Regions from separate parts of the Homo sapiens genome. Here region 1 is linked to region 2. A link means that fine-mapping ties the variant in region 2 to the expression of a gene that starts in the linked region. Tissue or cell type: lung. Region 2 holds a variant in brackets; the other region holds the start of a gene. All regions are shown on one strand. Distances are from middle to middle.

The links. PIP is the estimated chance that this variant, and not a neighbour inherited with it, causes the effect.
Region 1: it holds the start of EIF2B2, and the variant in region 2 is fine-mapped to the expression of EIF2B2 in lung (TOPMed, PIP 0.90).

Annotation. Positions count from the first base shown.
Region 1 is chr14:74,999,729-75,005,276 of GRCh38, reverse strand. EIF2B2 (eukaryotic translation initiation factor 2B subunit beta) reads right to left here and starts at 2,356. Exons shown (of 8, transcript NM_014239.4): 1 at 2,124-2,356; 2 at 1,882-2,002; 3 at 1,578-1,726; 4 at 377-540. The coding sequence starts at 2,286. RefSeq lists enhancers at 1,998-2,678, 2,720-2,809.
Region 2 is chr14:75,028,947-75,034,494 of GRCh38, reverse strand. MLH3 (mutL homolog 3) reads left to right here. Exons shown (of 13, transcript NM_001040108.2): 7 at 1,005-1,076; 8 at 2,316-2,427; 9 at 3,793-3,952. Among named protein-coding and RNA genes, the nearest start is that of MLH3, 20 kb to the left of the region's middle. The variant G/A (reference allele first, on the strand shown) is at 3,214.

The DNA of each region.
Region 1 (5,548 bases), 29 kb after region 2:
CCCTCCAGAGTAGCTGGGATTACAGGCATGTGCCACCACGCCCAGCTAATTTTTGTATTTTTAGTGGAGACGGGGTTTTGTCATGTTGGCCAGGCTGCTCTCGAACTCCTGACCTCAGGTAATCCACCCGCCCAGCCTCCCAAAGTGCTGGGATTACAGGCATGAGCCATCGCTCCCGGCCCCAACTTTCTTAAACCACTATTTATGAATGTTCACAGGACGAACACCTTGAAAATTCACTTAATGTTTTACTTGATCTTCTCAGTGTCTCAAAGTCTTGCTTATCAATTCAAGGTTGGAATGGCCCTACCCATCTCTCGTTTATTTCTTCTTCATTTTTCATTTTTCTTAGTAGCAACTCCAGCAGTCTCCTTACCTGGCAGAAAGGAGCACACTCTGCTACAATGACATGGAATTTCCTCTTTCGGGCAGCCTCTTTGAGGAAGGCCTCTACTGTTCGGGAGAAGCCAATGGTCATGATCACCTCATTGGAGTGAATGTGCTCCAGAGCCTGGGCTGCAATGTTCTCCATTGTCCCTTCTGTAAGAACGGTTTTGCAAAAAAAAAAAAAAAAAAAAAAAAAAAAATATATATATATATATATATATATGAAATTGCTATATCACAAACACACATTACGCGTATACGGAAAAAGATGTCTGCCCTTCACATGCACTGCCCACCTAGCAGACCCTGGTACCACAGGGTTAATGTGCTTAAAGTGAAATGTCACAATTTCTTTTTTTTTAATAGAGACAGGGTCCCACTATGTTGCCCAGGCTGGTTTTGAACTCCTGGTCTCAAGCAATCCACTCACCTTGGCCTCCCAAAGTTGTGGGATTACAGGTGTGAGCCACCATGCCCAGCTATGTCACAATTTCTTAAAAGCCCCACTCCTCTGGGATTTTCTGCCTGCCCTCTTCCAGAAGTACCCCTACCTATGAACCACCTCTGTCACTACAGAGCTCCTTACAACTGATTTTGAAGACAGTAGATTCAGCCAAGGAATGGCAATCTGGGAAATCCTAAAGTGCTGAGAATAGGGTAAAGAGAGCTTCGGCCTAAAAGAAGTCTTCCTCCAAAAGGTGGCCACAACACTTCTACATGAGAGAGACTGGCCAGAGAAGAAAAAATGGGGGAGCAATTTGGAAGCAGCTTCTTCATCCTCTGATTACAATGAATATCTGCAAGTCACTTGGACCGCAATGACAAGGGGGATAGAAATGGTATACGTGTACGTGTGTATAAAAATTCAGATAGTGAAGGAGGTCTATCGACCTTGGCTCTCTAGGGAGTTCATTTTGTTTCTTTACAATGAAAATAAAACTCTGTCCTAATAGAGTCTGTTCCACTCCACAGATCTGTAGTCTATCAAGGGTTGGTCTGTAAGGAAAAGTAGAGAGGATTACTTTGGTCCTGTCACCTGTTGCAACATTTCCTAATCAGGAAGGAGGACAAACCTCTGAGAACCAGAAGACAGCTAATCTCCCATCTCTGCTAATGAACAACCTTCAGAGGCTTCTGTTCCCTTATGTGCCTGTGACCAGTCCCATTTTCCCAGCGATCAGGCCTCTTACCCAGCTCCACTAGCAGCTCATTAATCGCCTCAATGATGTTGGACTGGAGTTGGGCATAATGGAAGCTGAAATCCTCGTTTAGGCCTCCGGATGTCAACAGTTTGTGCAGGGACTCCTGCTGATCACTCTCGTCGCTGCGTCCATGGAGTCTATAGAGGCAACAAGACCCAAAGAGAGAGGTGGGGAGGAGTGGTCAGGCAGGTAACAAGGGCTGTTCAGCTCCAATAAAGTCTCCGAGCAGGTAGAGGGGCCCGTGCAAAAAGTGTCACTGGATCCAACCAGGAGCCCAGGACGTGAGCCTGACCTGCCATACTCCTCCCGGATAATCTTGAGCACTCTCCGCACCATGTTGCCCACGGTGGTCTCGGAGGGCTGAGCGGCCGTCATCCTCCTGCCCTCTCTGCGGATCAGCTCCATCAGCTCCCCTACAGTCCAAAAGAGAGAGGATAAGAGGAGCCAACGCGAAGTGAGGCCTGGGAAATTTTCAGCCCTGGGATCGGGAACAGACAGGGGCCAGGTTCGCCGGCGGAGGCAGGCCGGCCTCACCCGCGTTGCTCCAGCGGTGGTCCGTGATGATCTGGCGCAGCAACCCTAGGGTCTCCCGAGCCATTTCCTCGGAGCTGCGCGGCCCACCACCCCGCTTCAGGGTCTCCACGAAGCTCTCGATCCTCTCTGACAACTCCGAGCCCTTCGCTGCGGATCCCGGCATCTTTAAGGTAGCTGCCTTCAGCCTTCACCGGCGGAATCCACACCTGCCAGACCACACAGTTTGCACTTCCGGGGCGGGCGAGGTCGGCTTCCGCTGTGAGGGGATGGGGGGAAACCTCAAGTTTGAGTGGAAGCCGGCTACGCCCTTCGTTGCCGATCTCCCGCCCCCTTCCTCTGCCTGAGCCAATCAGAGACGTGGGGCTCGGGTTGTTCAGTTATAACCGGGCGTCCGCGCGCCCCCGCGCCTCGGGGGCTGGAGGATCGGAAGCGGCCTTTCTTGGCTCAGCCGACGGTGAACGGAAGTAACCCGTCAGGCCTGTAGAGGGTGGCTGGTCCCGTTGCTATGGGAGCAGCAAGTCTCTACGCGCCCCTCACCGCGACTTAAGGCTACACTGAAGAAGTTGCGGCACTCCCTCCTGTCTTCCCAGCTCGGTGACTGCCCGAGCTGTCACTCCCGAGTGTCAGCTGACACTGACGCTCTGAATGCATGTCCAGGGTCGGCTGCCCCTTGGGCAGACGTCTCACTTTTGTTCTGTTACATTGCTTGGTACCGTTTGCGCCTGTGTCTAGGAGGTTCATGTCTCTGAAAACAAGGACGATATCTTTTGTTGCTTTTGTATTCTCAAGGCCTAACACGTCTAACAGAAGACGGCGAAATTAGAGATGAGGAAGATTAAGGAGATTCAAAGTGGGAGCCAATACAGAAGCAAAGATGACATCCTCTGATTTGGACAGAATTGTCCTCCTACAGAGAGGCCAGAGAGTATAACATAATACCAAGAGTTACCATTTACTTAAAGCTTACTGGTTCTTGGGCACTGTGTGTGAATTGTCTCAGTTAATAAGGTCTGAAATAGGTCCTCTTATCCCCATTTTACAGATTGGGAAACAGACCCACAGAATTTAAGCAGTTAATAAAGGATTGGGTTCATACTTAAATCCAGGTCTACCTGAACCCAAAGTATGTGTGTAATAGAAATCTCTATTTCCTTAAGATAAATTCTTCAAAGTGGAATCCATAGGCGAGCACATTTTAGACTTTTGTTACAATTAACAAATTGCCCTCCAAAAAGATTATGTCAATACCAAAGTTAGCCAAAGGTAGTACAAAGAAAAGAAAATTACAGATTAATATCTCTCATGAACATAGAAGCAAAAATTGCAACAAATTATTAGCACATCAAATCCTGCAATACATAAAAAAAGAATAATATGTAATTACAAAGTGAAACATAAACCTGGAATGCAAAGCTGATTAAACACTTAAAAATCAATGTAATATGCCATATTAACAATCTGAGAAGTAAAACCACATGATCATGTCAATTGATGCAGGAAGAAACATTTGACAAAATTCAATATTCATGGTACAAACTCTCAGAAAACTAGAACAAAAGGGAACTTCCTGAACTCGATAAAGGGTATCTACAAAATCCTACACCTAAAAATCATACTTCACAGTAAAAGATTGCTTTCTCCCTAAGATCAGGACAAGGCAAGGATGTCTACTTTCACCACTCCTATTTAAATTATACGTGAAGTCCTAGCCCTTGCAATAAGGCAAGAAAAAGAAAAAGCATACAGAATGGAAAGAAACTGTCCCTGTTCACAGAAGACATGATAGTGTACACAGAAAATCCCAGAGTCAACAGCAACAAAAACAAAACCTCCTAGAACATAAGTTTAGCAAGGATACAAAAACTATATTTCTATGTATTAGCAATGAGCATCAGAAATTGAAGTTGAAAATACAGTTGCTCTAAAAAGCCATAAAATATGTGTCAATTTTGCTGTGTTTTAGTTTTTATTTATTGATTTGTTTGTTTATTTTGAGACAGGGTCTCACACTGTTGCCCAGGCTGGAGTGCAGTGGCATGCTCACTGCTCACTGCAGCCTCAACCTCCCCTGGCTCAAATAATCCTCCCACCTCAGCCTTTTGAGTAGCTGGGACTACAGGCACACACCACCATGCCTGGCTAATTGTGTGTTAATTTTTAAATGTCTTTAAAATTGTATCAATTTACATGCTGGCTAGCATTTACCATATTATAGCCAATTTTGGATATTGTCGTTATTTTTTCATATATCAAGTCATTAAGAAAATAAGGTATATAGGCCAGGCATAGTGGCTCATGCCTGTAATCCCAGCACTTGGGGAGGCCAAGGTGGGCAGATCACCTGAAAGTCAGGAGTTTGGGACCAGCCTGGCCAACGTGGGTAAACCCTGTCTCTACTGAAAATACAAAAATTAGTGGGGGGTGGTGGCATATGTCTGTAGTCCCAGCTACTAGGGAGGCTGAGGCAGGAGAATAGCTTGAACCTGGGAGGTGGAGGTTGCAGTGAGCTGAGATTGTGTCACTGCACTCCAGCCTGGGTGACAGAGCAAGACTGTGTCTCAAAAACAAACAACAACAACAGCAACAAAAAAAACAAGGTATATAGTATTTTATATATACTAAAGAATTTATATGTGTGTGTATGCAAGTTATAAAGCATGACGACAAACAGGTTGAGGAATGTGAACCAATCCCTCACTTTGAAACTAAAATATTCGAATTAATAGAGATAGAAAGCAAAGCTGTGTTGGCCAGGCACAGTAGCTCACACCCGAATCCCAGCACTTTGGGAGGACAAGGTGGGAGGATGGCTTGAGCCCAAGAGTTGAAACCAGCCCTGGCAACATATCAAGACCCCCAGCTGTACAAAAAATTTAAAAATTAGCTAGGTGTGGTAATGCATGTCTGTAGTCCCAACTACTTGGGAGGCTGAGGGGGGAGGATCTCTTGAGCCTGGGAGGTCGAGGCTGCAGTGAGCTATGTATGATCCTGCAGTGAGCTATGATCCTGCCACTGCACCCCAGCTTGGGCAGCAGGGCAAGACCCTGTCTCAAAAAAGATAAAGGAAAGAAAGAAAGTAGAACTGTGATTGCCAGGGTCTGAGGGGAGGGAGAGAGTTGCTGTTTAATGGCTACAGAGTTTTAGTTTTGCAAGTTGAGAAGAGTTCTAGAGATAGATGGTGGATAATGGTTGTGCATTTATTTATTTATTTATTTATTTATTTTTTGAGACAGGGTCTCACTCTGTCACCCAGGCTGGAGTGCAGTGGCACGATCTCAGCTCACTGCAAGCTCCGCCTCCCAGGTTCACGCCATTCTCCTGCCTCAGCCTCCCCAGTAGCTGGGACTACAGGTGCCTGCCACCACGCCCGGCTAATTTTTTTGTATTTTTAGTAGAGACGGGGTTTCACCATGTTAGCCAGGATG
Region 2 (5,548 bases):
AAAAAGAATTGTTGAGTAGGCATGACAGAAATCGTGTGGCCCAAAAAGCCTAAAATATTTATGATCTGGCCCTTCAGAAAACGTTCTCCGGCTTGTGATCTAAAGTGCACTGGAAGTACATTCTTTGTGGGTTTCCAAGTAGCTTGTACACCAAGGTTAGCTGATTATAACAATGTGTTGTTTAACGATCCTTTATCATATTAAAGTTGAATTAATAAGGCAAAATCAGTATTTAAACATAAGAATTATATATTCAAGCTTCAAACTTGAGGAAATGCCACTTTGACTTTTTTTTTTTTTTTTAAGATGGAGTCTCACTCTGTCACCAGGCTGGAGTGCAGTGGTGCAATCTCGGCTCACTGCAACCTACACCTCCTGGGTTCAAGCGATTCTCCTGCCTCAGCCTCCCAAGTAGCTGGAACTACAGGCGCGTGCCACCACACCCAGCTAATTTTTGTATTTTTAGTAGAGACAGGGTTTCACCATGTTGGCCAGGATGATCTCGATTTCTTGACCTCATGATCCGCCCGCCTCAGCCTCCCAGTGTGCTGGGATTACAGGTGTGAGACACTGCACCCAGCCCTGACTATGTTTTCTAAATGAGATGCTGGTGAACTAAAGAGTTTCTTAGTTTACCTTTTGTTTCCTAAAAAATGAAATTATGGGGAAAATAATAAAACTTATAGGATAAAAATTAGTAATACTGGTAATCTCTGGAGAGAGAAACTAGAAGGGGTGGGGGCAAGAGTATAAAGGAGACTTTATTAAATTCCCTTTTGTGCCTTTCAGAATTGGATCTGGGATTCAAACATATGGGATAAGTTTGCTATCATTTTCCCCATAATTTCATGTTTTAGGAAATAAAAGATACAATTGTTACTCCTCAGAATGTTTTGTCTTATGCTGTTGTTAGATAGTTTGAATTAAGTCTTCTCTGTCCTCAACACACATGATGGTTGTCGTCTTGCTCTGAGAATCAAAGTTCACAATCCTTGCTCATCTAGGTGGGAACCTGCTCGTGCTGGTGGATCAGCACGCTGCCCATGAGCGTATACGTCTGGAGCAGCTTATCATTGGTAAGGATCTGTTTGCAGCCAGAAAAAATTTGAGACTCCCAGCAGAATCAGTACACCTCAAAGAGCTTTTCTAACTGCAACTGTTGTGAGAAAGCACACTTTGTACTGTATGTTCAAAAATTAAACTAAAGTCCTGCAGTTTGGCCTGTGTTATAATTGAAAGAATGTGGTAGTTCACTAATTGAAAGATGTGAACTTATTTATGTGGTCAGAGGCATATTTGCCAGATGTTATTAACAACCCAGAAGTACGCAAGGATAGGCTGCTTACTCTGACATCCAGCACAAAGCTCTGCCCCTCCATATGCCCGGTGATCTTGGCATGCCTTCCCACACTCCATCAGGCAGAGACCAGTGGCAGCTCAGAAGGCCCAGTATGCTGTTTTGATTTTAAAATTTAGTTTGCTTTTGAATATGCAGTATAATCAAATAGATCCAATTCTGAAAGGCACAAAAGGGAATATAATAAAGTCTCCTTTCTATCCTTGTCCCCACCCCTCCTAGTTTCTCTCCCCAGAGACAACCAATATCTCTGGTTTTTAAATCTATCTTTCCAAAGCAATATATGCTTTTTAAATGTTTTTTTTTGCTACCCTTTTCCTCATCATGAGGCAGTGTGTTCACCAAGTGGTAAAATACCAGGAAAGTCTTTACTCCTGTGGCCAATGAGTAATGTCAAAGAGTTAGGCAAGGACCTAAGGAGTGCTTCATGGACTAGAATGGCAATGATATTACTACTGTTTTCACTTTTCCTTATAAAATGACGGCCTAAGAGTTGGGAAAGATATAGTAAAAACAGTGTTAGAAAAACTTACCTCTACAGGCCCTGCACCATTTGAGAATAGTACTAATTCTCTCCAGAGACTGGGAGACCCTGCTCAAGGAAAGGGAAGCCTTCTGGAGCCATAAGACTGTGTGGTCAACCCACATATGTTCCTGGTAATCCACATTATTCACCTCTGTCATCAAAACAACATTTATTAACTACAGGAACATTGGCTTGTTCATCTGAATGTAAGATGCAAGTCTTATATTTCTTATTTTGAAAAATACTACCAAAATTGTTAATAGGCTGAATATTTATTAGTTTGACTTTAAAAATGGAAATCCAAAATCTAAAACTGAACATTAAACATTCTGCTTTGCATTAGAATGATTATCTCAAGGCCGTGCTTTATTTTTATCTGAATCTAGAAGACTTCCCTTCCTACTCTTAACCCATTCATCTTTCTGCCAATAGATTCCTACGAGAAGCAACAGGCACAAGGCTCTGGTCGGAAAAAATTACTGTCTTCTACTCTAATTCCTCCGCTAGAGATAACAGTGACAGAGGAACAAAGGAGACTCTTATGGTCAGTACCACCATGAGAATGTGATGTTGATGGTATCAATTCTCACAATAATTCTGTGAGGAATAAGCATAACTATTGTTCCATTTCTCAGATGAGACCAAGAGAGGTTACAAGACTTGTCTAAGGTCATAGCAGTTATTAAGTAGTGGAGCAGGCACTCAAAGGCAGGTCGTCTGACTCCACAGGCTGTTTGTTTCCTTTTTTAAAATATATTTTTTTCTGCATCCAATCATCCATTAAAATATTTATTTTGTGAGACATGGTCTCACTCTGTTGTCCAGGCTGGAGTGCAGTGGCACAATCTCTGCTCACTGCAACCTCCACCTTCCAGGCTCAAGCAGTCCTCCCACTTCAGCCTCCCAAGTACCTGGAACTACAGGTGAGCACCACCATGCTGGACTAATTTTTGTAATTTTTTGGTAGAGATGGGTTTTCGCCATGTTACCCAGGCTGGTCTGAACTCCTAGGCTCAAGCGATCCTCCCACTTTGGCCTCCCAAAGTGCTGGGATTACAGGCGTGAGCCACTGGACCCAGCCTATTCTTTCCACTGTATCCCAGCTGAAGAGTATAGGATAGAGTTTCCCTGATAATTTTTTCCAGCAGTTGGCTTAGAACACTCTTCTCATTTCTTGGAACAGTCTGTGTTTATGCCATGCTTTGTGAAAGCAAAGTTTCTGCAGTAATTGGTCCCATTCTGCTTTGCTTTGGTGCATTCTAGACTCTTAGTTTTCATTATCGTAATCATAATGGGAAGAAAGTAAAACATTGGGATGTAAGGAAGGGGC[G/A]AATCATATAGTGAGTCACAAGATAGGATATTTTTCCTCTTCTAGGCAGCACAAATTATTGAAAATGAAAAAGAAATTTCTCCCAATATGTTTCAGGTTTGGGAATATGATACTGCCAGTAAATCTTTTTTTCCCTATGACATAATTTATATTAGAGGCAGATCTATTTACTTACATCCCGTTAGTCAGGACTTCTCAATTCCTTGGGCTGTTAATTACCTCCCTGCTTTAATGCTGATTCAAATCACTCTCAGACCTTTTCTTCATGCCAGACTCCCTTAAGTGCCAGCAGCCAGAAGTTAGCAGTTCCTCAATGAAGAAAACACACTTAGAAACAAGACTTAGACACAGATTGATTCCCAATGGAAAAGAGAAAAACAATAAAGGTTACTGTAATTCAAAAAGGAAATTTGATAATAAAAAATCCCAAACACCCACACATAAGTGTGAGAAAAACAATACGGTTGTTAAGCCCTGTGGCAGCTTTTGAAAAACTATTAAGTAGTATTTGGAACCAGTAGTGAAGTGCAAATGAAGTAGCACTCTTTTTTTTTTTAACATTTGAGGTTATCTCTTTAGGTGTTACCACAAAAATCTGGAAGATCTGGGCCTTGAATTTGTATTTCCAGACACTAGTGATTCTCTGGTCCTTGTGGGAAAAGTACCACTATGTTTTGTGGAAAGAGAAGCCAATGAACTTCGGAGAGGAAGATCTACTGTGACCAAGAGTATTGTGGAGGTAAGACACAGCTGCAGATGTTAAGGAAATTGCTGAGTGATGGTAACCTCATATTTTGTCTGTAGATTCTCTGAATTCATCTTTTCTTCAACAAGTATTCATGGTATTTACCTGCGGTGTGCCAGGAGCTAGAAATTCAGAGATGAGTTAGCTCAAAATAAGGAAGAAGGGCATTTAAAGAATTATAGTCAGTGAACTTTGGCTAGTAGAGGTATGTGTTTTGCTTTCTTCCCAGTGATAAAGGTAATGAAAACTAAGAGTCTAGAATGCACCAAGATAGTTTTTCAGAAGTGTTATGGAAACACAGAATGACTTGTGTGCCTGGGGAGGTGAAGTCAATGAAAATGTCACAGAAAAGCTGTTTTCTTAAGAAAAGTTTTTACTTTTGAGAGACCAGGTCTCACTCTGTTGCCCAAGCTGGAGTGCAGTGGTGCAATCATAGCTCACTGTAGCCTTGATCTCCTGGGCACAAGCAATCTTCCTGCCTCAGCCTCCCAAGTAACTCGGACTACAGACACGCACCACCATGCCTGGCTAATTTTTTCCTTTTTTTTTTTTGTAGAGATGGGGGCCTCACTATGTTGCCCAGGCTGGTCCTGAACTTCTGGCCTCAAGCAATCCCCTTGCATTGGCTTCCCAAACCCCCGGCACTACAGGCATGAGCCACTGCACACAGCCAGAAAAGTCTTACAGAATAGTGGGAAACTAGGCTGGGCAAGGTGGCTCACACCTGTAATGCCAGCACTTTGGGAGGCCGTGGTGGGTGGTTCACCTGAGGTCGGGAGTTCGAGACCAGCCTGACAAGCATGGAAAAACCCCATCTCTACTAAAAATAGAAAATTAGCCGGGCGTGGTGGTGCATGCCTATAATCCCAGCTACTCAGGAGGCTGAGGCAGGAGAATGGCTTGAACCTGGGAGGCGGAGGTTGCATTGAGCCAAGATTGCACCATTGTACTCCAGCCTGGGCAACAAGAGTGAAACTCTGTCTCAAAAAAAAAAAGAAAAAAAGAATAGTGGGAAAGTGCTGAGTACAGAAGAGGGGAGAAGGGCATTCTAGACAGAGGAATACATATCAGAGACTTGAGATACATCCTATGTTTAGGGAACTATCAATAGATATGGCTCAAATTAAGATCTACAGTTGATCCTTGGATAACTTGGGTCTGAACTGCGCAGGTACACTTAAATGCAGATTTTCTTTCACCTCTGCCATTCCTGAGACAGCAAGACCAACCTTTCCTCTTCTTCCTCCTCCTTAGCCTATTCAATGTGAAAATGATGAGGGTGAAGACCTTTATGATGATTCATTTCCACTTAATGAATAATAAATATATTTTCTGTTTCTTATGATTTTCTTAACATTTTCTTTTTCTTTCTTTCTTTCTTTCTTTCTTTTTTTTTTTTTTTTGCGATGCCCAGGCTGGAGTGCAATGGCACAATCTCAGCTCACTGCAACCTCCACCTCCCGGGTTAAAGCGATTCTCCTACCTCAGCCTCCCAAGTAGCTGGGATTACAGGCGCACACCACCATGCCCCGGCTAATTTTTGTATTTTTAGTAGAGATGGGGTCTCACCATGTTGGCCAAGCTGGTATT